Regions from separate parts of the Homo sapiens genome. Here region 2 is linked to region 1. The links come from fine-mapping of genetic effects on gene expression. Tissue or cell type: T cells. Region 1 holds a variant in brackets; the other region holds the start of a gene. All regions are shown on one strand. Distances are between the middles of the regions. Region 1 overlaps LOC124907729 (a long non-coding RNA gene). Region 2 holds the start of MBOAT2 (membrane bound glycerophospholipid O-acyltransferase 2).

Region 1 (15,195 bases):
GCATCACGCTACCTGACTTCAAACTATACTAGAAGGCTACAGTAACCAAAACAGCATGGTACTGGTACTAAAACAGAGATATAGATCAATGGAACAGAACAGAGCCCTCAGAGATAATGCCTCATATCTACAACCATCTGATCTTTGACAAACCTGACAATAACAAGAAATTGGGAAAGGATTCCCTATTTAATAAATGGTGCTGGGAAAACTGGCTAGCCATATGTAGAAAGCTGAAACTGGATCCCTTCCTTACACCTTATACAAAAATTAATTCAAGATGGATTAAAGACTTAAATGTTAGACCGAAAACCATAAAAACCCTAGAAGAAAACCTAGGCAATACCATTCAGGACATAGGCATGGGCAAGGACTTCATGTCTAAAACACCAAAAGCAATGGCAACAAAAGCCAAAATTGACAAATGGGATCTAATTAAACTAAAGAGCTTCTGCACAGCAAAAGAAACTACCATCAGAGTGAACAGGCAACCTACAAAATGGGAGAAAATTTTCCCAACCTACTCATCTAACAAAGGGCTAATATCCAGAATCTACAATGAACTCAAACAAATTTACAAGAAAAAAACAAACAACCCCATCAAAAAATGGGCGAAGGATATGAACAGACACTTCTCAAAAGAAGACATTTATGCAGCCAAAAGACACATGAAAAAATGCTCATCATCACTGGCCATCAGAGAAATGCAAATCAAAACCACAGTGAGATACCAGCTCACACCAGTTAGAATGGCGATCATTAAAAAGTCAGGAAACAACAGGTGCTGGAGAGGATGTGGAGAAACAGGTACACTTTTACACTGTTGGTGGGACTGTAAACTAGTTCAGCCATTGTGGAAGTCAGTGCGGCGATTCCTCAGGGATCTCGAACTAGAAATACCATTTGACCCAGCCATCCCATTACTGGGTATATACCCAAAGGATTATAAATCATGCTGCTATAAAGACACATGCACACGTATGTTTATTGCGGCACTATTCACAATAGCAAAGACTTGGAACCAACCCAAATGTCCAACAACGGTAGACTGGATTAAGAAAATGTGGCACACATACACCATGGAATACTACCAGCCATAAAAAATGAAGAGTTCATGTCCTTTGTAGGGACATGGATGAAACTGGAAACCATCATTCTCAGCAAACTATCACAAGGACAAAAAACCAAACACTGCATGTTCTCACTCATAGGTGGGAATTGAACAATGAGAACACATGGACACAGGAAGGGGAACATCACACTTCAGTGACTGTTGTGGGGTTGGGGGAGGGGGGAGGGATAGCATTGGGAGATATACCTAATGCTAAATGACGAGTTAATGGGTGCAGCACACCAACATGGCACATGTATACATATGTAACAAACCTGCATGTTGTGCACATGTATCCTAAAACTTAAAGTATAATAATAATAATAAAATAAAATAAAATAAATTGGCCGAGTACAGTGGCTCATGCCTGTAATCCCAGCACTTTAGGAGGCCAAGGCGGGTGGATCACGAGGTCAGGAGTTCAAGACCAGCCTGGTCAACATGGTGAAACCCCGTCTCTACTAAAAATACAAAAATTAGCCGGGCATGGTGGTGGGCACCTGTAATCCCAGCTACTCGGGAGGCTGAGGCAGAGAATTGCTTGAACCCAGGAGGCAGAGGTTGCAGTGAGCCAAGATCGTGCCACTGCACTCCAGCCTGGGCAACAGAGTGAGACTCCATCTCAAAAAGAAAGAAAAAATATTAGGAAGATGGAAGGATGGGAGGGATGATAACAGAGCTAAATCCTTGTCTACCACTATTGAACCTCAGTGCATTCTGTCTAAAATTTATGGATCAAAAGAATGCAGGTTTGCAAATTATTTTTAAACGTGGAGCTATATTGCTGAAGGCACAACCAGAAGGTTACAGCAGTTCCTTCTGGGAACAGGACTGTGGAGGGAAGATAGGCAAGGGACTGTTCTCTTTGATTATGAACGTTTTAAGCCTTTTGGAAACATTTAACTATGTACCACTATTACTTCAATAAAAGTAAACATTTTGAATTCATGCTTGAAATGACTACCATTACAATAGTAATAATATGAATAATTCCACTATTGCTTAAGCCTGGCTTCTAAAGCAGCAGGCGATGGTTCATCAAGAAGGGGCAATGCCAGCAAAATATGTGGGCAGCGTGCAAAGCGCTTGTTGGAAGCCTTCAATGAGCAGCAGGCAGTGTGGCTCTCACTTGGTTTCTCCTCACAAAGGAGAGCTTTGCAGCCCCTAAGAATTTACAAGTATTTCAAAGTCAGCTTAAGGTCTTATCCTAAGAATGGTTGGTTAACAATTGTCCAAAAGCATAACATGAAAAAGCCAGATAGGCCTGAGTTGGAAACAGCATGTGCACCCCTTGCTGGGTCACTCTGAGTAAGTCTCTTCTGACTTCCGAGCCTTCATTGCTTCATCTATAAAATGGGGGTGATAAAAAAAAACCCTCAAACAATTGCTGTGATGATTGCATGAGGTCATGTGTAAGAAGGCATTTAGCACAGCACAGAAAAGTGCTCGACAAATGTCTTTTTCATTCATTCATTGGTTCAAAATGAAATGAATCATGGTTCAAAGAAAAAAACAAGATCAAGATTCCCCCAAAAGGCAGATGTGATCAGTGTGATTATTTTATTCTGCTAAACAAAAACAGAATTATATTCCACACATTGCAACTAATGTCCTAATCGAGGGGAAATTGCTTGATCATGATGAAACTTCATGTTTCGTAAAGGTTCTCATATACAGTCAGCATAATTTATGAGAATTAATTCGTGATGGCTCTAGAATTCTTTGAACCCCTCAGTTACCGTAAATACGAAGTATCATTAAAGAGAAATGCTGTCTCCTCTAATCTCTTCTCTTTGTGTTCTCTTCTCCTTAGGAGGCACACATAGAATCGAATAGTGCAAAGCTCTCTTGAGTCAAGAAGACCTGGACTCAAAGTCGGCTTCCTCTGTGTACTTACCCTGGGCCACCCCTCTGAGCTCTGATTTGCTCGTCTGTAAATTTGAGATAATGTATTATTATCCCAAAAGCTATGTATTACACCTTGCTGGGTTCTTTATAGGTTGAGTAAAATATTGTATGAGATAGTGTCAACCACGTAAGAACCATCCAATAAATATTCATTTCCTTCTTCTGACTTTTTATTAAGTACTTCAACAACCTTCCTTCCTTCCTTCTCAAAGAACCTAGAATCTTCCACAGCATGATTTCATATTATTGTGTGCTCTTTCTTCTTGCTTCAAGGGATCTTTGATAATCTGTTCAGATAATTATTCCATCTCCAATAATTATCTAAGTAACCTTCATTCTCTTCTTCCTTCCTCTTCTGTATTTCAAATACATAGAATAGTAACCATTACCTTTATACCCCCACAAAATCTTAATATTTTCGCATATTTATCTCAGATATATCTTTTTTAAAACATCATATAATAGAGTTGAAGCCTTCTATCTTGAAGTTGGAATACATCATTCCCAGGAGTGTTTTTAAGCTTTCATTACACATACATGGATGTATGCATGTTACATGTTACATGAAATTGTTTTGCAACTCTGCCATCCAGGCTGGTTTGCAGTGGTGTGATCTCAGCTCACTGCAACCTCCACCCCCCAGGTTGAAGTGATCCTCCCACCTCAGCCTCCCAAGTCTGGGACCACAGATGTGTACCACCACGCCTGGCTAAGATTTTTTATTTTTGATAGAGATGGGGTTTCACCATGTTGCCCAGGCTGGTCTCGAATTCCTAAGCCCAAGCAATTCACCTGCCTCAATCTCCCAAAGTGCTGGGATTATAGGCATGAGCCACTGCACGTTTGCAAATTTTTTAAGTTAAAGAAAATATGTCATACTCCATGCAACATTCTACGACTTGTTTTGTTCATGCAGCATGGTTTTTGAGATTTATCCAAGTTGATTCATTTTAGTTTCTATATAAAATTCCATTGTATGAATATACAGCACTCCATTTGTCTATGCTCTCGTGGTGGACGTTTGTGTTCACATTTTCACTATTATCAACAATCTGACAATGTTTTTAAACAATTCTCCTTATGTGCATATTTCAGCATTTCTCTAGGACGGCAGTTTGAAGACATTTTTGTCTCAGTACCTCTTCATCCTGCCGACGTTTATTTAGGAACACAGTGAAATTTGTGTATGTGTGTTATAGCTATCAACACTTATCATAGTAGAGATTAAAACTGAGAAAATCTTAAAATATATGTTAACTTATTTAAAAATCACTAATAAACCCACTATATGTTAATTACATTAAAGCTATGTATAGTCTTAAATTTCTAAAATATTGCCAAATTGTTCTCCAAAGTGATTGACTGAATCCATACTCCCATCAATAGTATATAAGCATTTCTATTTTTTTATGTCCTCTTCAACACTTGGTATAGTCAGGCTTGTTAATTGTGGCCAATCTGATGGTTAGGAAATAGTGTCTCACTATTGTTCTAATTTCTACTTCCCTGCAACAACAAGGTCCTTTACTAACTCCTCTTAAATTACCAAGCTGGAACATACTCAGGACCCTGATGTAGGATACTTTACTAAATTTTGTTTTAATGATTGTTTAGAACTCAGAACACATTATTATTACAATTAAACCTAGAGACACTATAAATAGTGGTCACCATTCCAGACTAGCCCACAAACACTGAATTACCTTAAGGTGTAGACTGGGGTCCCCAACCCCCAACCCCCAAGCCACGGACGGATACTGATCCGTGGGCTGTTAGGAACCAGGCCACACAGCAAGAGGCCACACAGCGCGGGCCAGCGAGCATTACTGCCTGAGCTCCGTCTCCTGTCAGATCAGTGGCAGCCTTAGAGTCTCATAAGAGCACATACCCTACTGTGAACTGTGCATGTGAGGGACCTGGGTTGCGCGTTCCTTATAAGAATCTAACTAATGCCCCGATATGAGGCAGAACAGTTTCATCCCGCAACCATCCCGCAGCCCCTGGAAAAATTATCTTCCATGAAATCGGTCCCTGGTGCCAAAACGGTTGGGGACCACTGCCATAGAGGGATGAGAGATCTCGAGACTAACAGCACAGCAGTCAGAGGAGGGCTGGCCTCAAACTCAAGACTGAGTCTCAGCTCCCACCCTGTCAGTACTCATCAGTTACCTCTCTGAATCTATTTTCTCAACTATGAAATGGGGATAATAACATACATTCTCCCTCACAGGGCATTGCAAAGATAAAGTGAGATGTGAAAATCCATTAAAACTCTGTATGGTATATCCACACAATGGAGCACTATGCAGCTATAAAAAATAAGGAATATATCTGAACTGATATGGAATCATTTCTACGGCATGTTGTTAAGCAAAATAATAATAATAATAAAAGAACAAAGGAGTACATATATTGGTATCTTTTGTGTATGAAAGACATACAGATATAGATGTTAGACATATATATATATATATATATATATATATATATATATATATTAGCTTATTTTTGTGAAAAGAATATCTCTTTGTATAGTATGGACTTCCAGAACCACATTAATGTTTACATACACCAAAATTAAATAAAATTAAATTAAACTATGTCAATAAGATGGAGGAGGGGAAGTCCTAAGATGTAACACAAACAGAAACAAATGAACTCAATGGTATTTAAAATAGAGAGCGTGACTACAGTAAAAGGGAGGGGAACTAACACAAATAACTTTGTTTTTAAAAAATAAACTCACCCTGAGGAACTTTTTAACACAGTATTTCGACTACAAGGAAAAAGCCTATTGCAAGCAAATCTTGAACTGTATTTAAGTAGGGCTTATTTTAGCAGTGTTGTGGGCTAGCAATTCTAAACAACTTGCTATGTATGTAGGAGTGAACAAATGAGTACACGTATTGATGACGTTGAGAAGGAAAATATTAATACATAATGGTAAAAGGCTAAGAAGAGCCTTGCGGTGTTGAATTGGAATTCATGGTTTCTAAATACTGTATAGATATAATTACATTTGTGAATATTTGTGTGTATTCTCTAGTTTTTTCTGCTGAAACGGCCTAGAAACAATGATACCCAAAAGCAATAAACATGCCTAGCACCCAGATGTCAGATTCTATATACTGTTTCCCAGTAAAAAGAAGCAGCACTTCTCCAAAAAAAAAAAAAAAAAAAAGCCAATTATAAGAGTGGGGCAGGGAAAATGTACTATGAGCCTGGAATGCTTTGTTATGCCATAACAAATAAAAAAGTACTCAAAAAAAAAAGGATACATTCAAAGGACATGGGGAACAGCTTGCAGAAGCTCTCACTGATCAAAGTCTGGGGAAACGTGAGCGTCAAGATCAATAATAATAATAATGGATTATAACCCGTTGGGTAAAATAAGAATCCGTTAATCCACACTGATTAAACAAAAATAAGTACACAAGAGAATGGAAGAATGGAAAGATCTTCTAGTATAATTAATAAGTTTAGAGAGAATGCTGAACTTGGTTGCCATTTTGCAACTATCATACCAATAATTGATTTAGGCAAGAATCATCAGTGAGTGCTCAAACTAGTTGTGGGTGTCTCACCACACACCACCACCTTTGAGAAAACACGTACGAGGAGCTACACAATCTAGGGTTCATCGCCTCAACTTGGTAAGGTGGCTACAATTGCGGTTATCCCCATTTTACAGTTTAGGACACTGAAATGTAGAGATGAAGCAACGAAGGCCACATGTTCTGGAGACAGGATTCAAATCGAGTTGACCACAGCCAGAGTTGTCTCTCTTCCCGCGTAGACTAGGGATCCTAGTGACTCCAGCTGCCAGGCAGCCTGGCTCTCTGGTGTCCCAAACTCTAGGGGGAAGAGATGTGTGGGTGAGAGTCCAACCTGTGGGATGGGGACACAGTGTGGCTTTGGGGGCCTGCATCACAAAAGCAGCTAGGCAGAGGCATGAGGTGTGATATGGTTGGGGCCACAGCTGTTCATGTAGGCCGGTGCACAGTTGTCTTATTCTACATCCATCTCTCCTCATTCCAGCTCAAGCCTCTCGCTTTTTCTTTAAAAGTAATGTTCGGGGAGGAGGATGTTACCTGAATTAGCCAGATATTCATCTCATCTCTTCGTTTCTTTTGGCCCACGTAAACACAGACCCAAAGTACTCCAGTCAGCGGAAATCTTGTAGATCTTGCTTGCAAAAGTGGCCGCTAAGACCAGGGCTGAGCCCTTGCATTATCTGTGCATATCAGGGCCTATTTACAAAGGGCCTCCGAGTCAGCTGTTGGATGTTATCTCTGACTAGGTTATATAAATAGCTACGAGATGCACTGACAGGATTAAAAGAAGTTTTCCATCACGCCACTTCTGTTGTTAAGTGCAAACATTTAAAGTCTACTACCATTTTTATAATCATGTTTCCCAACTATAACTATTTAATTAATTTATTTATTTGTGGTACATCAGGAACCTCAAAAAATGGATGTGATTCAGGGACTCTGTCTCTCTC[T/C]GGAAAGTCCCTATTTGTATGTGTGTTTCCTGCTTTTGAGTGTGATTCCTTTGAGGTTACATGAGGTCACATGACGGTCAATAGATCTTGTTGAATAAAATAAAGATGCTGTTAATTTCTCAATCAACAGAGCACCAGTTTTATTTTATTTTATTAACTTTTACTTTAGATTCAGGGAGTAAACATGCAGGTTTGTTACATGGGTATGTTGTGTGATGCTGAGGTTTGGACCACGATTGAACTTGTCACCCAGGTAGTGAATATAGTACCCAACCAGTAGTTTTGAAGCCCCTGCCTCCTCTCCCACCCCTCTTACATTCCCCAGTGTCCATGGATCCCATCTTTATGTCCATGTGCACCCAAGGTTTAGCTCCCACTTCTAAGTGAGAACATGTGGTATTTGGTTTTCTGTTTCTGCATTAGTTTGCTTAGGATAATCGCCTCCAGCTTGCATCCATGGTGCTGCAAAGGACGTGATTTTGATCTTTTTTATGACTGCGTAGTATTTCATGGTGTATATGTACCACACTTTATTTATTCAGTCCATCACTGATGGCCACGTGGGTTGATTCCATGTCTTTGCTATTGCAAATCACCAATTTTCTTTTTTCCTGGTTTCGAAATTATCTTATTGCTTTACGTGCTACCTTATTTACCTGAATTTAAACCGGTAGTTTTATTCAGAGACTGCTTATTTAAATGGTATTATAAGTATCGAGTTAAATATCAAAAGCAATTATTAAATATTCTGTTAACAGAATGCTCCTTGTTCCTACTGAGTAGTTTTATGTTTTTCTGTTGGAAAAAAAATTAAAGGAATGTCATCTCAGAGAGTGAAACAATCCATCACAGTAATTAACACAGGAGGGTAGGCACACATGGAATAATCATACCCTGGAGTTCAATGTAGGAGAAGGACAGTGTGGCATTCCAGGTGATGATTGCACACCATAAGGACTACCCATCCCTCTGATGCCACATTAAGTCAACACGTCTGAAATTTCTAAAATATTCAGTATTACAGGATGAAATTTGGACAAATCCATAAGATCTGTGCACTTCTGTATTTATTTATTTATTTATTTATTTATTTATTTATTTATTTTTTGTGATGGAGTCTCACTCTGCCGCCTAGGCTGAAGTGCAGTGGCGCAATCTCAGCTCACTGCAACTTCTGCCTCCCGGGTTCAAGCAATTCTCTGCCTCAGCCTCCCGAGTAGCTGGGATTACAGGTGCCCACCACCATGCCTGGCTAATTCTTGTATTTTTAGTAGAGATGGGGTTTCACCATCTTGGCCAGGCTGGTCTTGAACTCCTGACCTCATGATCCACCCACCTCAGCCTCCCAAAGTGCTGGGATTACAGGGAGCCACGGCGCCCAGCCGCACTTCTATAATTTTAAATGTATTTGCTATCAACTGTCCGCATCCCAGCAACTCCCAAATACTTACATTTTATCGGGTGCTGAGGAGAAATTAAACCAAATTAGATGTGTTTTCACTCTTTCCCCTAAGCTTGAATATATAGACATAGTATCAACAATGTCCCCTTTGTAGCAAATTATTGCTTTTATCTTTTTATTACTAGGCAACAAATTATTTACTTAATTAGGAGGTAAGTTAGAAACCCAAAAAGCATCCTTTTTTTGAGACAGGATCTTGCTCTGTGTCACCATTACGGCTCACTGGAGCTTCGACTGCCCAGGCTCAGGCGATCCTCCCGCCTCAGCCTCCCAAGTACCTGGGACCACAGGCGTGCACCACCACACTCAGCTAATTTCTGTGTTTTTTGTAGAGACGGGGTTTCACCTGGTTACCCAGGCTGGTCTCAAACTCCCCGACTCAAGCAATCCACCCGTCTCAGCCTCCCAAAATGCTGGGATTACAGACGTAAGCCACTGCACCTGGCCCCAAAAGTCACCTTTAAAATAAAAATTTTAGAAGCACTTTTTGAGATCTGTAATATACCAGGTACATTTTTAATGAAAACCTTATGAAGTAAAATTCCCATTTTACAGAAGAGGAAAATGACATTCAGTGAAATTATTTACAGAGTTTTATAGTGAATAAATGACAGAAGTGGCATTTAAACCCAAGTCATTTTGCATTTCCTATGACATTGCCCTTCAGAGCTTTCTCTCACTCCCCACCCCTCCAGATGCCTTCCCAGATGGCAGCATGTTGACAGACATTGCTTCTGTGACTCCCCAGAGTCCCAGAGAGAAAGATGGAGATGACATTATGCATCGGGGGTTCCAGAAGCAGAGTGTGGGAACTATGAAGTATCTTCTCTGTTTCTCTGAAAGTTCTCACCTGGGTTAGAAGCTGATTTTCCTTAGAGCCCGGTTTGCTTCCTGGTATGCAGTGAGCTTAGTTGGGCTGATGTTGTCTGTAGGTGAGGCCTCCCACTGGTGGGGTAAGTTTATTTCAGAGGAATGATAGCATTTCCTCTTGCCACAAACCTAGGTCACACCCTCATTCTGGTTTTTTGCAGCATTCAAGTTGTTATCTCCATCAGGCTGGGTTCTGTGTCTGTATCTCAGCTGAACTCAAATTCTAGAAGAAAGCATATTCTGGAGCAAGCTGTGTATCTATCCCCTCTAAAGTATCAACAGGTGTGGGGCTTTGCTGGTTTCACAGAACACGTGCAACTGAAGACTGGACTCTTGAATGCTCTCCCTCTCTGTCAGCTCAGTACTTTCTCACCATCGGTCACCTGAAGACCAAGTTCCAAACACTCTGGGCTCTGCACAAGGCTCCATGTGACCTGTTTGTGCCGCAGTCAGCTATGAGGCCTGCAAGGGCGGATCCCTTTGTGTATCCGTGTTGCCAGTACCTGGCACTTGCAATGTGCTCAATAAACATGGATTTAGTGAATGAGTGTAAGGGTTAGCTTCACTTCTCAGAGCAAAAGGGGAATCTCCTATTTGGGTGTAATTTTTGCAAGTGACCTGGCAGCAGTAGTGAATGAGAAAGTGTTTCTGCTTCTCCTTTAGAACACAAGCAAAACATGTGGTTTCTGAGCCCATGGATCTTATAATTTTATTCATACACAGAAAAAAAGCAATAATGATTCATGAATGTGTAGGACAAATGCCAAATAAATTGGACAAACAGGAAAGGCCACAGATAATCCAAAGAAGAGTAATCACTGTGAAGGAGAGTTTTGAAATAAGTGGGTTTTGAAAGACAGCTGGGGTTTAAAAAGGGAACAAACAGTGAAGGTAAGACTGAAATGCGCAAAGCTGTGGTTGGTAGGGGAATGAGCCGGGTGGGTTTACAAATACAGAGGCCAGCAGGCTGGTCAGAGAAAGGTTTTAATTAAGAAGCAATAAGGAATAAGGTTCAGAAAGTGAATAAAGGCTGGGTTAGATAGAGCTCTGAACAGTTCTTAGGAGTCTAAACTTGGTTTTACAAGAAATGAGCATGCATGTTAGGATTATTTGGCTACATATAATAAACTCAAGCTAGCTTAAAAGGGAAAAGAAATTTTTTTAGAGAACTTGGAATATCTTTCACATAATAATTCCCTTATAAATAGTTGTTATATTGAATTAAACTCTTAGAATAACCCTCCTTTAAAATGTATGGAAAAATAAAGAGAAGAACAAAAGAAATGATGCAGAAAAAGAGGTTGGTTGCAACAATATTTATTAAACAGCCTTGAGTGCAGTAAAAGAAAAATTGAGATCATCCTAATTCAACAGTCTTTTGTCTCAGTCCTCATTCCTTGGGGTACCTTGATCAGTGCCAAAGGCATGTTTGTGATTGGGAGAAGAACTGGGTCTTCATGTCTGTGTTCTCTCTGTGCTCCTGCAACCAAGGACAAAGAGTTTCCTACTGAAGGAAAACATTTTCCCAGGAGCAGCTTTTTCATTTTCCTCTCCACTATGTTTTATTGTCAGCACACAAAATACCTTCATTGTGTCTTATTCTGCACAAAGCAGGACAAAGTCAGGCAATGTTATTACTTTTAAAAACCAAGGGAGCCAACAATACACTATATGATGGATAGTCATCGTTTTTATAGTGAATTTTCTTCAGTTGTACATCTCAATCTTATTTTGAGAATTAATTCAGAGGGTGAACTCCACTCAGTCTGTGAATATTAGAATAAGCAGCTGTAAAAGCATAAAATGTTTAAAAAGCTGGGGGTATAAGTCAGACAAAACCAACATTACTTTATTTGTTCAAAGAAGATACAAAAAAAAAACATTAAAAGGGACATGGAGATTAGAGAGAGAAGCAGTTTGGGAAACATGAATGAGCAAATTTTCTCACATTTTTTCCACTAAAAAACAATCATGAACTTGCATAATTTTATGGGAAGAAAAAATGGAACATTGAGCTGCAATGACTTATTTCAATTTAATTTACACTATTCTAATTTTACTTCCAATCCTTTCATGTACATCTATAAAATCTACATTATCATATATAAGGGACACCTAAGATGTTGTCTTCTGGTTTTTTTTTTCATTTTTAAATTTTATATAACCATGTCTATCTTTGACATTAGTTAGCACATTTGTCATTTTAATGTCCCCATAACATCCTTAGGATGGTGACATAACCCCTATGTACTTGGGAGTTGGAAGGTGAGTTCGGAGGATTTAATAGTTACAAGGCTTTTCCCCAACTGTAAATTGACTTGGTGTATGTACAAGTTCAGCAAAGTAAAGCACTGTAAAGGAATAGCCAGTAAAGTCCTTACATGAAAGATTGTTATGAGTATTTTCAGTAAAGTCATAGTATCTTCTGCTTGTAAGTTGTTTTTCACCATAAAAAAAAAAAAACCTATGGGGACAAGACAATAATTCATTAAATAGTGCTGGAAGAAACAGAGTGAAGAAACATGTGTGCCAATTGTTGGGTTATTATCCATTAGCTTGAAATTCAGGCTTTTACATTCTGCTTTGTGATACTGGGGCTCAAACTCTGCAAACGACATTTCTGCTTTGCCAACAGCTCCATGTTTGACTCCATCAATAGGGGTACCAGCGGAAGTTTATAAATCTGGAAGGAAAGAAGGGATTTATTTCTTCCAACTTGCTTCCTGTGACTTCCTGTCTACTTCCTGTCTACTTCCCGTGTGACTTCCTGTCTACTTCCTATATGACTTCCTTTCTACTTCCTGTGTGACTTACTGTCAGCTTTCTGTTCCTGTGAATGTTATCCCAAAGATACTTCCTCACCCTAACAGCAGTAGTTCCTTCCGGAAGTATCTTGATCCAGTTTGCAATTTTTCCAATGCCTGCAGAACCAGCTCTATTGTCTCTTCTCATCCCCTAGTCAAAGCTCAAAGATCCCAGCTCCAGCTGAGCAGCGCTCCTTCCTCAGAGGTCTGGATTTCCATTTGTCATTTTTCTTGGCTTCATTATTTTTTCTTCTTACCTGCCTTCTGTTAAAATAAGTTTTTAATAATTCCGTTATTGGCTGGGCATGGTGGCTCATGCCTGTAATCCCAGCACTTTGGGAGGCCAAGACAGGCAGATCACCTGAGGTCGAGAGTTGGAGACCAGCCTGACCAACATGGAGAGACCCCATCTCTACTAAAAATACAAAATTAGCCGGGTGTGGTGGCACATGCCTGTAATCCCAGCTACTCAGGAGGCTAAGGCAGGAGAATTGCTTGAACCCAGGAGGCAGAGGTTGAGGTGAGCCGAGATCATGCCATTGCACTCCAGCCTGGGCAATAAGAGCAAAACTCTGTCTCAAAAAAAAAAAAAATCCATTATCTTTTTTTCTACTGGTATTGATGTCAATTGCATTTCTATTCTGTTAGTGATTGTGCTTACTTTTTGACGTAAATATTTAACTATGAATTTCTCTAATACAGTGTACAGTTATTTCAAAATTTTAACCCTGCATTCACTTTGTCATTGTTTTTCTACTTTTTTACAAAAAAATAGTAATCACTATCTTTCCAAGTTATTTAAATTTATTAAAAATTTATCACTTTCACCGAGGTGGGAAGATCACTTGAGCTCAGGAGTTCAAGACCAGCCTGGGCAACATGGTGAAACTCTGTCTCTACCAACCCCATCTCTACCAAAAATATTTTTAAAAAGTTAGCTAGGCATGGTGGTGCAGGCCTATATTCCTGGTTACTCAACAGGCAGAAGTAGGAGGATGGTCTGAGCCCAGGAGGTGGAGGTTGCAGTGAGTGGAGATCACACGATTGCCCTCCAGCCTGGGCAACCCTGTCTCAAAAAAAAAAAAAAAAAAAAAAAAAAAAATATATATATATATATATATATATATATACATATATTTATATATATATATTTATATATCACTTTCTTTGCTCATCTTTGCTTCTTATAGCCCGTCTCATCTCTCAGAAGTTGTGTTTCTACTATGGTGTTATATTCTCATATTACTTGTTGTAGAGTTGTATAGTCTGAAAAATGTCCTAATTGTAAGCCCAGTTAAGAATGGTTATATAACTAGGTATAAAATTGAAAGTGAACACTTTTTGATACCTTAGTAATTCTCTGGTAACTTCTCAGGTTTTTCTCTTTATCCTGAATATCCTACACTTTTGCTCTTGTGTGTTTAGAAATGAATTTGTTTTTAATTAGCCTGCAAATTATTCAGAGTGTACTTTTAATCCGAGGTTGTGCTTATTTCTTCATTTTAGAAAATTTTCAGCCACTGTTGTTTTATTTATTTCTTCTCTGCTGGTTCTTCAAAATTCTTCTTTGGGAACTCATATGAGACATGTATTTTAGCTTGTCAGTTTATCCTCCATGGTTATTGTTATTTCATATTTTTATGCCTTTGCCTCTTTGTGATTTATTCCAGGTGAACTCCTCTGTAATAACTGTCAATTCATGGAATTTTTTTTTGACAGTATCCCTCTAGAGTTTACTCTGTACGTTTAACTAAAAAATTCTCTTTCTCAGTTTTCCAATTAGCACTTTTAAAATAAGAACCTATTTCTTTATCATTTCTGCTAGCTTTTATTTAATAATTTTTAAGTATTTAAATATTAATGTTATTCCTTCAGTTATCTCTTTGTAGATGCTAAACATTTTAAGAGACTTCTTCTATTTCATAAAATTAACTTCATATGATATGAAATTATGAGAGATATTTTCATTATTGATTTTGCTGGATAACTTTCTTGGCATTTCTCTCTGTGTTTTGGAATTTTGGTTTGCAGGCTCAGTTTAAATAGGAGTTTGTTGTCGTTGCTGCTGTAGTGGTTGTTATTAATGTGGTGAGGTTTTTAAAATCTCTTTCTCCCTTTATATTTTCTGTGCTGCTGTGATTTGGACTTTTATATTGTATTTTCTAATTGTATATCAAATATATAAGAACAAAAATATTTTTTAGACTTTTCTTTTCCTGCAGCTTTTATAGTCTTTTTAAATTTTTTTTTCACTTTCTGGTATATTTTCTTCAAATTAGTTGTGTTTAAAATGATAGTTTCTGACTGGGCACAGTGGCTCACACATGTAATCCCAACACTTCAGGAGGCAGAGGTGGGCGGATCACTTGAGGTCAGGAGTTCAAGACGAGCCTGGCCAACATGGTGAAACTCCATCTCTACTAAAAACACAAAAATTATCCGGGTGTGGTGGCGGGTGTAATCCCAGCTACTGGAAAGTCTGAGTCATGAGAATCGCTTGAACCCAGGAGGTGGAGGTTGCCGTGTGATGAGATCA
Region 2 (14,969 bases), 43 kb before region 1:
TGTGGACACCATAGTGTACTTACACAAACCTAGATGGCATAGTCTGCTACACACCTAGACCAGATGGTACAGCCTAGGAGGGTGAGTGACCAGCGTGTGAATGCAAAGGTCCAGGACTTTACCGTACACCACTGTAGACTTCATAAATACTCTACATTTACGCTACACTGAATTTATAAAATATATTTTCCTTTCTTCAATAATAAATTAACCTTGGCTTACTGTAACTTTTTTACTTTATTAAGTTTTTAATTCTTTTATAATAACAGCGTAAAACATACTGTACAGTTGTATAAAAATATTCTTCCTTTATATCCTTATTCTATCGGCTTTTTTCTATTAAAATTTTTTTAATTTAAAAAACGATTAAAAACTAAGACACAAACACACACACTAGCCTAGGCCCACACAGGGTCAGGATCATTAACATCACTGTCTTCCACCTCCACAGCCTGTCCCACTGAAAGGTCTTCAGGGGCAATAACATGCACGGAGCTGTCATGTCCTACAATAACAATGCCTTCTGGAATATTTCCTGAAGGCCCTGCCTCAGGCTGTTCCACAGTTAATTTTTTTTTTAAATAAATAGGAGTATACTCTAAAACAACAATAAAAAGTATAGTAAATACATAAACCAGTGATGCACTTAGGATTATCAAATATTACGTACTGTACCTAATTGTGTAGTATACACAATGTGCTAGACTTTTATAGGACTGGCAGCACAGTAGGTTTGGACTGGCAGCACATTAGGTTTGTTTACACTGGCATCACCACAAACACATGAGTAATGCGTGGTGCTACGACATGACAATGACTACAGCTTTACTAGGCAATAGGAATTGTTCAGCTCCATCATAATCTTACGAGACCACCAGCAGACATGTGGTCTGATGACCAAAATGTCACTATGCAGTGCACGACTGTGCTATACAAAGTCAGGGCTACACATGGCTGTACAAATTTAGAGTAGTCCCAAGGTACCAACTTAAGACCTTTAGCTAATAAAGAAGGATGTCAAAAATTTTAAGTCCTGTCACTTTCCCTTGATTCTCCTGCTTACTTCAGTACTGAAAAGAACTTTCTCTGGATGCTTAAATGCGTTCATTAATAGCAAATCACTTTAAAAAGTTATAAGCATTATATAAATGAATAGGTATTATTAGCATAGTCAAGAAAATATTTCAGCATAGCAGGGACGGGTAGGGCTATGGCAGACATGGAGCGGGAGGGAAAGAAAGATGGGGGAGAGAAAAAGGGAACGTGAACATGTGCCCATCTCTCTGAAAGAAATGTAAATATATAAACCTATCTCCCTTGCTCCTCATCAGCAAAGAACTTTTCAACAGACACCCACCCTGCATTTGCTGATATACTGGAAGTAGCCTATTTAAGGCAGGAGTGTGATATGCTAAAAGGTCATACACTGCACACCAGTGTGGAAATGTCAGCAAGAATCCTCCGCGGGGCCGGGAGGATGAAAAACCCTAAATTCTGGTCAATTTATTAATAAAGAGAGAAGAATATTTTCTTCGAATACACGATTAATTTCACTACCATACTTTATTAGCAAGACACCCATTAGAACTCTTGTTCAAGACAGGTGGGGGATAGGTACTTTACTATTAACCAGAAGTTATGACCGCGATGTGGAATTTCAACAGAAGCCACAATTGTTTAACACTCCTTCGACATACTTAAGGCGATTTTATTTAAAACAGTAAAGCACAAAGCAGCTAGTATCCTAATGTCAGGTTTCCAGCTTGCTGCTATGGAAAGCCGTCTGGACAAGAAGGAATCCCGTATTGAAGTGAAATCCCTGAAGACTAAATGACAGCAGCACCTTCAAGTTCAAGACAGTGAACCAGTATCCCGTGTGAAGTCCAAACACTTCCAGGTTAAGTACACTTGAAATAACTGTAAGCAAAATTTCCAAAGTTAACTACCTTTAGCCTGGGGCTAGAGCAATCACCTAACTATACACCCCCGCCCCCCAGCCCCCGCCTCATTAACAACTTCCCTAAATCTCACTGTCACAACAAAATACTTCCAAACTTTCTTTTCTCAGTAAAAATGGCGCTGCTTTTCCCATCACAATGCTGTTTATTTCTCAGTAATCGTTAGGCCCTTTAAACCATCAAACTCGATTGGCCTCATTTAAATACCACCCTTCCCTAGACACTGTCAAGAGCTTTTCTGAGGGCTGGGCAAGGAGGTAAAGTGGCTGCATCAATCTACAAGGTTGCCACTTTGTCAGCAAGAATCCTGGGATTAACTCCGACTTTTCTTCATAACCTGTCTGCCTTCCCACAAACTGTTGCCTCTGTCTCTCTTAAGCCACAATCCAACGCAAACTGTCCCCAAAGTGCAGTAGCGCTTAAGCCTCTCCGGGCCCCTAGCACCCATCGACGCCGTCTCTAAGGCACCCAGCACACCCAGACCCATGCATCAGCCTCTCCGGGGGTCGCTCAGAGGCGCGCGCGGGGCAGGCAGCACCACGCCAGGCTCCCCAAAGCGCAGCCTTCCGCACCCTTTCCACAACCCGGTCCATGCGCACCGGGGGCTGCTCCGGGACCCGACCACCGGATCCGAGCGCCGCTGCCGCGAAGGGCAGGGACCGCATGCACACCCGCACGCCCATACGACCACCCTCCCCGGGGGCTGTCGCCGGCAACAACGCCCGGCCCACCTCCCGCTCGGCCCGGGGATGGCGGGCTGGGGGCGCACCCAGGAGGGAGGGGGCTCTGGGACAATAACCGGCTTGTTGCCCCCTCCCTTCCAGGGAGCGGCGGGTAGGGGGGCACCGGGCGCCCGGCCCCAGCCCCCACCCTCCTCCCGGGCCCCCGGTCGGGTGGCACCGCGGCGGGGAGGGGCGGCGAGGGCGCGACGCCCGGCGCCAGGGCGCCTCGGGGTACCTGGTCGATGGGCAGCTGCACGGCGTTGCTGAGGGGCTGCAGCAGGGTGGAGCCCGTGGTGCTGGTGGTGGCCATGGCCGGGCCTCGGCGCTCCGGCCGCCCGCGCCGCTCGCCCGCTCGCGCTGTGCCGGGCGACGACGAGGATGGGGATGCAGCGGCGCGCCCGCCCCTGGGCCGCCCGCGGTCGGAGCTCTGCGCGGGGAAGGCCGGGGAGGGGCCGGGGGCGGTGCCCGGCTCGCACCTCCCCCTCCGCCGCCACCTCCTCCCGCGCCCGCCGCCCCCGACCGCCCTGCACAGGCGCGGCCCGTCCTGCCGTCGCCCCCGTCGTCCCCGCCCCGGCGCCCCAGCCGCATCCCCCGCCCCCGACTTCCAGCAGCTTCCAGCGGCCCCCTCCCCACCTCGCGCGCTCTCGCTCCAGACAGCTGCGCGACCCAATCGCGGCGCGACGCCCTGACGCCCGCAGCCAATCAGAGAGCGCCGGCCGCGCCACGCCCCTCCCCCGTGCCGAGGACCCGGGCGAGGGCGCCGAGGCGCGGCCCGGGCCGTCGCCGGAGAACGGCTGGCCAGCGTCGTGGGGCGCGCTCCTCGGGTGAGAGCATGGAAGAGCGTCTTTGCCCCTCACTCCTCGGTTTCTCCTCCCTGGAATGTCGCGGCCCCCCACCCCTCTCTGGGAGAGACGGCAGACAACAAAGGGGCCCGGGGTGGCGGCCGGAGGGACGATGTGAGGGACGCCGCCGAGCCAGCGCCAGGGGAAGTTGGGGACGAAGGTGGGGGCTGGGAGGACGACAAACCAAAACAGCGACCTGGCTGAGAAGCCCCTTTGTCTGGGAGAGTGCCGGGTGAAAGCCCAAAGCTGAGAGCAGCCCCGGGGTCTGACGCTTTCGTCACCCTGCAGCCGCACCCGGGCCTTTGGGTGGTGAGAGCTGGGCCTGGGTTCGACGCCCGCGGGCGCAGGGAGACCGGCTCCCCTTTGCTGTGTGAAAGTTTAGTTCTTTGTAGCCAGCCGCCCTCGTTGAAGGCCCCACCTTCTTCCTGAGAAAGTTTCTAAGCATCCCTTCACCCCTTGAGCGCAGGCACCCCCAGACTGTTGAAGTCCGCCAGGTTTACATACCCTGGCGGGTCACGTGTATATATAATCCCCCCAACTTCGTAAAAGTAAGCCATTTGAGTTCCTTTAAAATGCAAACGTCAACTTCTGTTCAGAAGACTTTAAAAGAGGAGAAATGCCACAGCAGTTATGAGGACAAATCAAGACTCAAGGATTTGGCAGTTTAACTTTGGTAGAAATAACTAATGTTTACTGAGAGTTTAACCACAGCTTTAATACTTTTGGTATTTAATCCTCACAATAACCGTGTGAAATAGACACTTTTACACACCCTCCTTCAAGGAAGTTGAGTCACAGAAGAGGTAACTTGCCCAGGGGCACACAGCTGGTAAGTAGATTGGAATCCAAGTAAATCTACATTTAGAGCCGACCTTATCACTAGGCCTTCATCTCTCTCACACTTAACACCCATTCCAGAAACTCCCGTCAGCTATCAGTTATACCATTGGGTTGATGACTAGCTTAGAGTCTTGAATAAGAAGGCAGCACAGATAAAAATACACCTGCCTTAGTAATCAGTCTGTGGGCTTACGTTTGTCTCTCTGAAAAGGAGGCAGTGGAACTCATCAGTGCAATCCCGTCTTGCCTAGAATCCTTTCACTGGTCGACTCAATCCTAGTTTGGTGGATTCTCAGCTGAAATGGAATAGAGGATAAAAGGAAGAGTAAAAAGAACAGGACCTTCATTCCCCCAGGGGAGTGTTCCAGTGGGATTTGTAATCAATTAGAGAGCTGCTTATTACAGTATATTAATCCAAAAACCCAGACCTATTAATATTATATTAGAAAGAAACCATTTTTTTTTCCTTTTCTTCACTTTAGAAAAGTAGAGGAAGCGCACAGGTGGCTGAGCATACAAACTGAAGAAAAAATTGAAATGCCATTTTAAAAACTTGAAAGGTGGGTGTTGGGAACATATTGCAACCTAAAGTAAGCAGCATGGAGATACAATCTCAGAGCTAGAACAAATAATGTCTGCAGAAAGGAGTTTCCTTAAGCTAAATTTTTATTTTAGTCAGACATGACAGAACATAATCTGTATTTGGGGTAACTACATGAAATTATTTAATATCTAGAATGGTTGAGCGCTGTGGCTCATGCCTGTAATCCCAGCAGTGAGCTGTGATCGCACCACTGCACCCCAGCCTGGATGACAGAGTGAGACCCTGTCTCAAAAAAATAAATAGGCCAGGCATGGTGGCTCACGCCTGTAATCCCAGCACTTCTGGGAGGCCAAGTTTGGTGGATCATTTGAGATCAGGAGTTCCAGACCAGCCAACATGGTGAAACCCCGTCTCTACTAAAAATACAAAAAAAATTAGCCGGGCATGGTGGCAGGCACCTGTAGTCCCAGCTACTCAGGAGGCTGAGGCTGGAGAATTGCTTGAACCCAGAAGGAGGAGGTTGCAGTGAGCCGTGATCACACCACTGCACTCCAGCCTGGGTGACAGAGTGAGACTTTGTCTCAAAAAATATAAAGAAATAAATTATATATATATATAGAGAGAGAGAGAGAGAGAGAGAGAATAGGGAAGATTTTAGCCATCTGGGAAAATTTTGCTGTGTCAGAGTTACAAAACTATAGGTAAAATATAGTATAGTAGTAATAATAGCTTAGATTTTGGAATCAAACACACCTAGTCTCTTCCATTTATTAGCAGCAAGATATTGGGCAAGTTATTTAACCTTTCTAAGTCTCCATTTCCTCATGTAAAAATGAGCGTAATAATGGCACCAACTCCATAGTTTATGAGGTTATAAAGGTGTACTTATATGAAGAGCTCAGAACAGTGCTTGGTGCATGATAAAACTTAAGAAAGATTATATTAGAGTTCTCCAGAGAAACACAACCAATAGGAGATAGATATGGTTTTGCTTCTCTGGAGAACTCTAGATAGAATAGATAGATAGATAGATAGATAGATAGATAGATAGATAGATAATAAATAGATATGGAAATAGATAGACAGAAGTTTATTATGAGAGATTGGGTTGAGATTATGAAGGCTGAGAAGTCCCACGATCATCTGCCATCTGTAAGCTAAAGGCCGAGGAAAGCCAGTAGTGTAGGTCCAGTCCAAGCCCAAAGGCCTGAGAAACACAGGAGCCAACAGTGTAGTTCAGTTTATGTCCAAAAGCCTGAGAACCAGGAGCAATGATATCCGAGGGCAGGAGATGATGGATGTCCCTGTTCAGAGTGAATTCACCCTTCCTCCACCTTTTTGTTCTATTTGGGCCCTCAGCAGATGTGATGACGCCGGGGTACGTGGGTGAGAAAATCTTTACTCAATGTACCAATTCGAATGCTGATCTCTGCAGGAAACATGCTCAAATACACATTGAGAAATAATGTTTCAATAGCTCTATCTGGGCACCTTTTAGCCCAGTCAAGCTGACACATAATATTAATCCAAGAAATTTAGTATAATTCTGAAAATGGAAACCATTTGTTTCGTATTAAATATACTACCTCTTCATGTTTTTAATGAAGAATTGAAGCTGGCATTTTAAGCTGATAACTCATTGATGGTAGCATAAACTGTGTGCAGGCCATACAATTAGCCTGACCAGTATCTGCTAATTATACCAGAAGCTCTTCAGTGGAGACAAAAGAGAAAAGAATTAAACTAATTGTATATAATGCCTCACTGCCCTACCTTGGGTAACATCCATCCTATAAAGAGCAATTCTTGTGTTAAAACATTTATTGACCACTTACTATGTTCAAGGAGCTATGTGGGGTGACGTAAAGGATAAATGATGCCTGTAATCAAAAGAAGAAAACAGTCGTATTCACAAATTCACATGTTACAAGAAAAGTATCAAGGAAGTTTCTTTTTTTAATGTTAAAATCAAAGGAATATGTCTGTAAGAAAGAAGCTTAGCTTGAAGTTAAAAGACCTGAATTTTAACCCTAACTTTTCCACCAGATAGCTATGAACTTTAGAAATTGGCTTAGCTTCTCTGTGCCTTAAGTTTCCCATTGTTAAATATGAATAATGGTAACTGTTCATCCTACCTCATAGGAGTGTTGTGACTATGAGCATGAACTTAATCATAGACTCAATTATTTTTAAAGTTACTAGTACTGTTAGTCTGAGAAATAATAACTAGTAGTAAAGGGATTTCAATATAGCAGCCACATTGTTAACAAGAGTTACTTAGACAAAGGCACAGGAGCACCAGGCAGCATCCACGTGTGGTAAGATGGCAGTGCGGCAGTGCTCTTGTCCTGGGTTCATTGCCCTCGCCTCCTAAAATCGCTGTGATCATTAAAGATTGCTAAAATGAGATGTTTCCTTCCCAACTTATTTTTAACATTGAAGAAACCACTGGGAAGAAATGAATAATCTGCCAAGCTGCTTTTGTTTTGTAAAAATAGTATGTGCCATGAAATTCCATCTCTCAGGCAATTATTTTGCCTATTCTATGTTCCTATACCCTGGAATAATTTTGATGGATGAAGAACATTGAACCATACACATAATAACAACCCAAGTTAACTAGAGGGGCATCTTTAAGCACTTGCAAGCTAACCTTAGCCTGAGACTAGAAAATGGAACGAGAATGTCACCCTTTAAGACCTAACATAGTTCAATTAGGAAATCACAAAGTAGGCTGAACAAGAGGTAGCAAACACAGTAGGAGAAGTCCTGGCTCCACTGTATTCTGGCTCCACCACGGACGTGGACTGTACCAGCAAACAAATCACTCATCTTCAATTTCATTGGGAACATGTTAAGAGATTTGTTAAATAAATGATTTCAATTGTCACCTCTTCCTCTAAAATTAAATGATTCCCAAGAATTTTTGGGACTTTCTCTGTCTCTGTGAGACCACAGTCTAGGTTTAAATTAGGCTAAAAGATGCAAATGAAACTATTACTCATCAGTTTGGGAATAGCACTGCTTTCTAATTATTCCACAGGTTCCAGGACTACCTCAAATGTATTACGTCTCTAATCAGTCTTTCTCCTTAAAAATGCCTATTATTTCTTGGTGGACTGCAAAGATTTCTGTTTTATATCTGCGCATCTTGGGAAACATTTTATTTTCCTCATAGATTTATTTGGCATTTTTATCTTTATATGATTGAGTCAAATCTCAATACAAAGAACACCCCTTTCATGCTTATTTATTACAACATGAGCATGCAGCCTCCAACCCCTGATTCCTAGGTACAGAAAAATAAAGTTCAAGCTTTTTCATGCTTTTGCATATCTGCATAATAGTTTTTGTGTCCAAATTATGAAACACCTTAAATATAAATTGCTGTAGCCTCCCCAGGGTTCATCATAATCACCGTCACCACTAGCAGCATTTATTGCATCTGCTGGGGTCACTGCACTGGGGAAGAAGGCCTCATTTTCTCAGTTCGCCTAATATTCCAGGTTCTTTCTGTTTATCTATAATTGTAAGAAGAGTTGCCCTTCTGATACATGTTGACATATCACTGTTCTGCTAAACAGTGTAGTCTGGCTACTAGGGGAGGAGTTACACCCACCCTCTTCTGCTGCCAGCTCTGTGACAAAGAGAAAGCTGTAAGTTATTCTCCAGCCTGCTGAAGAGTTTTGTGTAGTCCCCAGCAGCCTATCACTTTCAGCAGAATTCCCTCTTTAGAAGTAAATGTGTCAAACTGCATATTTTGTTATGGGTATTTTATGCCTAAACCCTTCCTCCCTTATTGTCATTTTATAGATGCTGGGTTTTGGTCCACAGATTACAATACCAGTGTCCTAACTAATGTCAGAGTTCTAGCCAGTGAAAAATTAGAAATGAGAGTCATCTCTTCCCATCATGTCTGGGGTTACCACATCTAACCTGGTTCTCTTGCCAAAGAACTTGCTCTCCAGGATGGATGACTCTGGATAAACATGAGTTACCTGCTAAGGAATGGCCTTATAATCAGATGATAGTCTGGTTTCAAGCTCATCAAATTATCTTTTAATTTATTTTCCATTTGAAATCAAATAGTTATTCCCTCTTATTTACATTCTCATCTAGGCCTAAAATACTGTTTATCACAAGACAGTTGTTATTAAAACCACAAAACATTAAGTTTAAAGGTAAACCTATCATGAAAGAGATATTGTTCCCAAGGAAGCTTAAACCAATTTATTATTAAATTTACAAATAATGGGTTGCCACTTCCAAAGTGAAGATGTAGATCAGGTGGAAATAACACGAAAGGAGGGTCCTTTATTAGATACTTCATCTGAAGTTTTGTCCTTAACTTTGTTGAGGCATCGGGTGGGGAGGGTTACATTAATAGAAAGCAATAGATAAAGAAGTTGGGCACTGGAATGAGAAATGAGACTGCCTTAAGTTCGAGGCCTTCTTATTTGATTTGGGGAAAGTTACTTAACCTCCTTGGGCCTCAATCTTGTCATCTATAAAAAGGGAGTAATAATGATTTGTTGTGGTGTTCAAATAATACACTTAATGCTTGTCACATTGTAAGTGCTCAATAAATATTAGCCATCATCACCTTCATCAGCAGCAGCAGCACCTTCATCATCATCATCATCACCATTATGTCTTACAGCATATGGTTACATTTATCATCATAGGTACCATATGCTAGATAGAAGGGTAGATTAAAAACAAGTTGTTACATGAGCACAGGGAGGGGAACAACACACACTGGAGCCTGTCGGGGGTTGGGGGATGGGTAGGGGGAGCATCAGGATAAATAGCTAATGCCTGCTGGCCTTAATACCTAGGCGATGGGTTGATAGGTGCAGCAAACCACCATGGCACACATTTAGCTATGTAACAAACCTGCATGTCCTGCACATGTATCCCAGAACTTAAAACAAAATCTAACAAACAAACAAACAAAACATAAGTTGTTGCTTTAGTCAGCTTATTCCTCCAGATTGAGGGGGAAAAAACACTGAGGGCTAAAATATAGGGTATAAAGAGTACGTTAAGTGATTTAATAAATTCCTGGCCTACCTCACCTGAAAGCATTAACAGAGTTTTGCACTTAACGGAAATAAATTGGGCGACAACTAGTTTTGAACATTTTCTTCTTAAATGCTGGAATATACTGTGGTTAGATATTTTGCTTTTAACTGTTAGTATCTATTCTGAACCTTTACAACCTACACAGTAGGAAAGGGATTTTAAAAGGACAAACAGTAACTCATATAAAGATTTCATGGATAAGAACTAAGCAATTGAATGCATAATTTATAGTTTGGAGTACCATATTACTTTGTGGCACATTTAAAATTGTTACTCTGATTGATTATTTTGAAAATTCCAGGCACCATTAGATTTCATCCCTCTGCACAGTATTTCTCTAAATACCATCTCTGAATCCACAAATATTTATCTTTTTTTGGTTAGCATCCAGCTGGTAACCAGTAAAATGATCCTACATTATTCTAGGACAGGAGCCAGGAACTTGGTCTTATTGCATAAAGCTACTCTATTCCTCTTTGTGTGAAATATATTCCACTACTGGTCCCTAGATACTTATTTAAGAGAGCACTTAAAATCGCTCCCTTTGGAGTTGCCTGAGTGTCATTGAGAAATAAATCAAAAGACAAAATCAACTCAAGTATGTCTGATACAACTCAACAAGGCAGTGTATCTCAGTGGGGTCCCAAGATCTTCTTTATTAGAATCACTCAGTATGCTTATTTAAAATCCAGATTTCTGGGCAAGTCAACACATAAAGAATCAGAATTTTCTATGTCAGAGCCTTAGAATCTGCATTTTATTAGTGTTCATGGGTAATTCCTAAGTACCCACTGAAGTTTAAGAACTATTGCCCTGGGCCCTTAATATATCGTATTCTATTAAGAACTTCATTATAATTAAGCAAATAGAAAAATAATTCATATATGCTGATTCATATGCCATAATAAATAATTTAACTAGGTTTTATTGTGTCTTTCCAATTTACAAATAATCCACAATCCTTTCTCTATGTTAAAATGTTAAATTCTCTAACAATACATCAGTACTAATAACTATGACAACTAACATTACTAGATCCATTTTCTAATGTAAATAAAATAAAAATCAAATGTCCAGGGTTCTTATTGATTATGTGTAATAAAGATATAAATATTCTTGTATATTTCTGAGTAGCTATGATTTCTTACAAATTTCAGAAACCTGCCAGCTTTGAGATCCTGCATTTGAGAGCCAGCATTGGCTGGATACACCATGCAAGTGATAGAGCATTTGGACCAGGAAGAGAATTTGGAAGTAAAGGGAATTGATGTAGCACAGTGTTCAGTTTTAAGAGCTTCATCTAGGTGAAGACTCATAAGTAATATACATATGGTATAGCCAAGGTCTTTTATGAAGGAAAAGTAATCACAGACAAAAATTGTCAAAGAAGAAAATGAAAAAAAGAAGCAATTAAGAAGTTTTAGAACAGGGCTGGCATTTTTCTCTTGTTTTTATTGTTTGGATTTCACTTTATTTGTATTAAACAATTTTAAGAGGCAAATAGCACTATAAGATTTTAGCAAAAAAAGAGAAGTCCCTGTTCTATCTTTTCTCATTCCTAAATTTTGCTTCCTATAGTTAACACTTTCAACTCTTTTTTTTCTCTCTCTCTTTTTTGAGACAGTCTTACTCTGTCACCCAGGCTGGAGTACAGTGGTGCAATCTTGGCACACTGCAACCTCTGCCTCCCAGGTTCAAGCGATTCTCCTGCCTCAGCCTCCCGAGTAGCTGGGATTACAGGCACCTGCCACCACACCCGGCTAATTTTTGTATTTTTTTTTTTTTTTTTTTTTTGATAGAGACGGGGTTTCACCATGTTGGCCAGGTTGGTCTTGAACTCCTGACCTCAAGTGATCCACTACTGTCTCCCAAAATGCTGGGATTACAGGCATGAGCCACCTTGCCTGGCCAACACTTTCAACTCTTTTAACTATTTCTATTGGAATTGACCTTCACATTTTCTGGGGTAAAAAAAAAAAAAAAGATGTTTATAGTGCTATTTCAGGACTTTTCCATTTTAAACATTGTACATTGACAACCTAACTGTGGATGATGAGAATAGAATTATTTTCCCATTCTCCTTTCAACCTGATTCTCCTAATATATTACTACTTTGGGCAAAACAAATATTTAGTGTTTCCATTATTATGAACTCATAGATATTATTCAGAGAGGAGCCACATAGTATATTATGATTATGTTTTCATTCCTCTACAACTTCGTGTTTTTCCTGGAGCTAACAGTTGCCTTTCCTTAATCATTCAGTTTTCTATGTAAGTATCATTAATTTGAATTCATTTCCAAATCCTACCACAGAACTCTAGAACTCCTATCAACATGGCCAGGTGCACAGAGTGATCTATTAGTTCTGTGTTTTTCTGGGTATCCTGGACCCCTGTGTTCTTCTGCTTCACTCTGTCCTGGCCACTCTTAAGCCCTAAAGCAAGCCTGCAGCCAAGGATTTTCCTTTGGTGTGATGGAGGGATTCCTTTCATTCCTCTCCCATAATGGGACACCTGGATGTTACACACCCAGGAACAACACCCAGTCCCACCGTAGGACTGCTCTAATAGTAATCCCACAGCCCCCGCCACTTGCTGTTTGGTACGTAACAACTCTAGGGACCAGATAGTACATGCATTGTCAATGGCGGTGAAAATTGGTTTTAGGAGATTGGGAGTAATAGATATTTATATAGTACATAAATAGGTAAACAATATATCTATGATCTTCAAATTTCGTGGGTAGGGTGGTTAAAGGAAAATGTTTCTAAAAAAGCTCCACAGAGGAGCAATAATGAAAGAAAAAAGGATGAGAAACACAGATAGCAGAGCCTTTGCCGCAGGTGCCCCAGAATATGTACTACCTCTGTGTGGTTACCATTTCTTGTCTCCAATGCCCAAATCTCTCCTGGGTGAGTTTGCCTGATGGACCTCAGTGACATGCAGAGCTGCTGCTGCAAGGGAGCCTGGGAAATACAGTTTTTTCTTTCTAGTGTCTAAAACAGAGGAAAGCTGTTAGGAAGGGGATGAGGGAGTGGGTGTTGAGTGCACCAGTCTGTGATATCTGCCCAAGATGGGTCTAGAATTTCAGATTGAAACCCTCATCACTTAGAATTTTGAAGGCATTGCTCCATTTTCTTATAAGTTCCAATGATGCTATTAAGAAATGTCATTTTAATTTCTGATTCTTTAGATGTGACCTGGTTTTTAATTTTTCTTCCCTCTCTAGAGATATTCTTTTTTATCGCTGATGTTCTGAAATTGTAGTGATCTGTCTTAGGTGGGCCTTGGCTATTCATTGGGCTGGGTATTTTGTGGACTCTTTGGATGTAGAAACACAAGACCTTCAGTTCAGGAAGTTTTTCATGTTTCTTTGATAATTGTCTTCTCTTCATTTTTCTGTTCTCTCTTTGTGGAATTCTTATTTGTAGGATAGTGGGCTTTCTGGGTTAATCCTCTAACTTAACTTTTGTCTTTATTTTCCAGCTTTATCTTTTCTTCTATATAACTTTCTCAACTTTATCTTCCAACCTTCTCCTGATTTACTAATATTTTCTTTAGATATTTTTCATTAAATTGTTCACAAAAATATATACATTCCCCTCATTGAAAATTCCTGCAATGAATATAAGTAACAAAATGAAATAAGAATGAAATAATGTTTCATACCCTTAAAAAGTTTAAGTTATGAGAAAGGGGGTTTGTTCAATAAAAGAAACAATAAATAAATGTGAACAAGCACCCAGAACACATCCAAATGTCTATGCAAAGACTGTTCCCAACAGCTATCCCACTGCACGTTATGGTTTATGTAACTCCTCAACCAACCACTTATGAAATGTAAGTTAAGAAATATGAGATCTACCTCATGTTTCTGATTTTCACAATATCAGTGCCAAACTCATACCATCTTCACTAACTCTAAATGTTGAATGTTTCCAAAGTGAAAAGCAAACAATTCTTATAACCTGCTGAGCAGATTTTGCTGAAATAGTGAATTTCACTGTACTTAAGAAGAATTTGTTGGCCAGGCGTCGTGGCTCATGCCTGTAATCCCAGCACTTTGGGAGGCCAAGGTGGGTGGATTACTTGAGGTCAGGAGTTCAAGACCAACCCGGCCAACATGGTGAAACCCCATCTCTACTAAAAAAGAAAATACAAAAATTAGCCAGATGTGATGGCGCACGCCTGTAATCCCAGCTACTCAGGAGGCTGAGGCAGGAGAATGGCTTGAACCCAGGAGTCGGAGGTTGCAGTGAGCTGAGATCATGCCACTGCACTCCAGTCTGGGCAATAGAGTGAGATTCCATCTTAAAAAAAAAAAAAAGAAAGAAGAAGAAGAAGAATTTGTTGCAACTTATATTAAAATAGCATGAATAACAAATAACACCAAATAAATATCAGCAAGAGTAATGCCTACACATATTAAAGTATCCATTTAAACCATGTTCTAATTAAATAGAATGTCCACTAAGTCAATTTTATATATCATTACACGTAACATGATATCAAAGAATATGACTTTATCTATTAGGCATTTCCAAATACCTATTCCCAAATTAATATTTATGCACTTGTTAAGACTTACAGTTTACTTAGAAATAAAACAGAAACAAACACACATGCATTTTTATAATTTAAAATATTTCATGTTACACATGAGCAATGTTCAGATTTAAGTTTTAAGCCAAGTTTACTTTTTCCTAAGTTGTATTTATGCCAAGGCTTTCTTACAAAAATATATCTTATGTGTATAAATTGGACAAACTTACAGTAGTATTTCTAATGTTCAATTTGAGATGGGAAAACATAAACCTATTCTGAATAAAGATATTTGTCAAGGTTTGGGGTGTAAACATTTTGTCAGGCAAACAATTTAGTAAAAAAAAAATTGACCTTCATTTAAAAATATACGCAATCTCATAATAAGCCCCTGGACTTCCAAGTTGAAATACAGCTTGCATTTCTAGCGAAGA

Evidence for each region.
Region 2: MBOAT2 starts here. The variant in region 1 is fine-mapped to the expression of MBOAT2 in T cells (TOPMed, PIP above 0.99).

The regions. Positions count from the first base shown.
Region 1 is chr2:9,043,043-9,058,237 of GRCh38, forward strand. It overlaps LOC124907729 (a long non-coding RNA gene), which reads left to right. Exons shown (of 2, transcript XR_007086200.1): 2 at 2,925-3,178. Among named protein-coding and RNA genes, the nearest start is that of MBOAT2, 47 kb to the left of the region's middle. The variant T/C (reference allele first, on the strand shown) is at 7,524.
Region 2 is chr2:9,000,625-9,015,593 of GRCh38, forward strand. MBOAT2 (membrane bound glycerophospholipid O-acyltransferase 2) reads right to left here and starts at 3,060. Exons shown (of 13, transcript NM_138799.4): 1 at 2,916-3,060. The coding sequence starts at 2,990. LOC124907728 (a long non-coding RNA gene) reads left to right here and starts at 3,452. Exons shown (of 2, transcript XR_007086199.1): 1 at 3,452-3,504; 2 at 4,845-8,239. RefSeq lists an enhancer at 1,717-2,371 and silencers at 2,136-2,430, 2,974-3,433.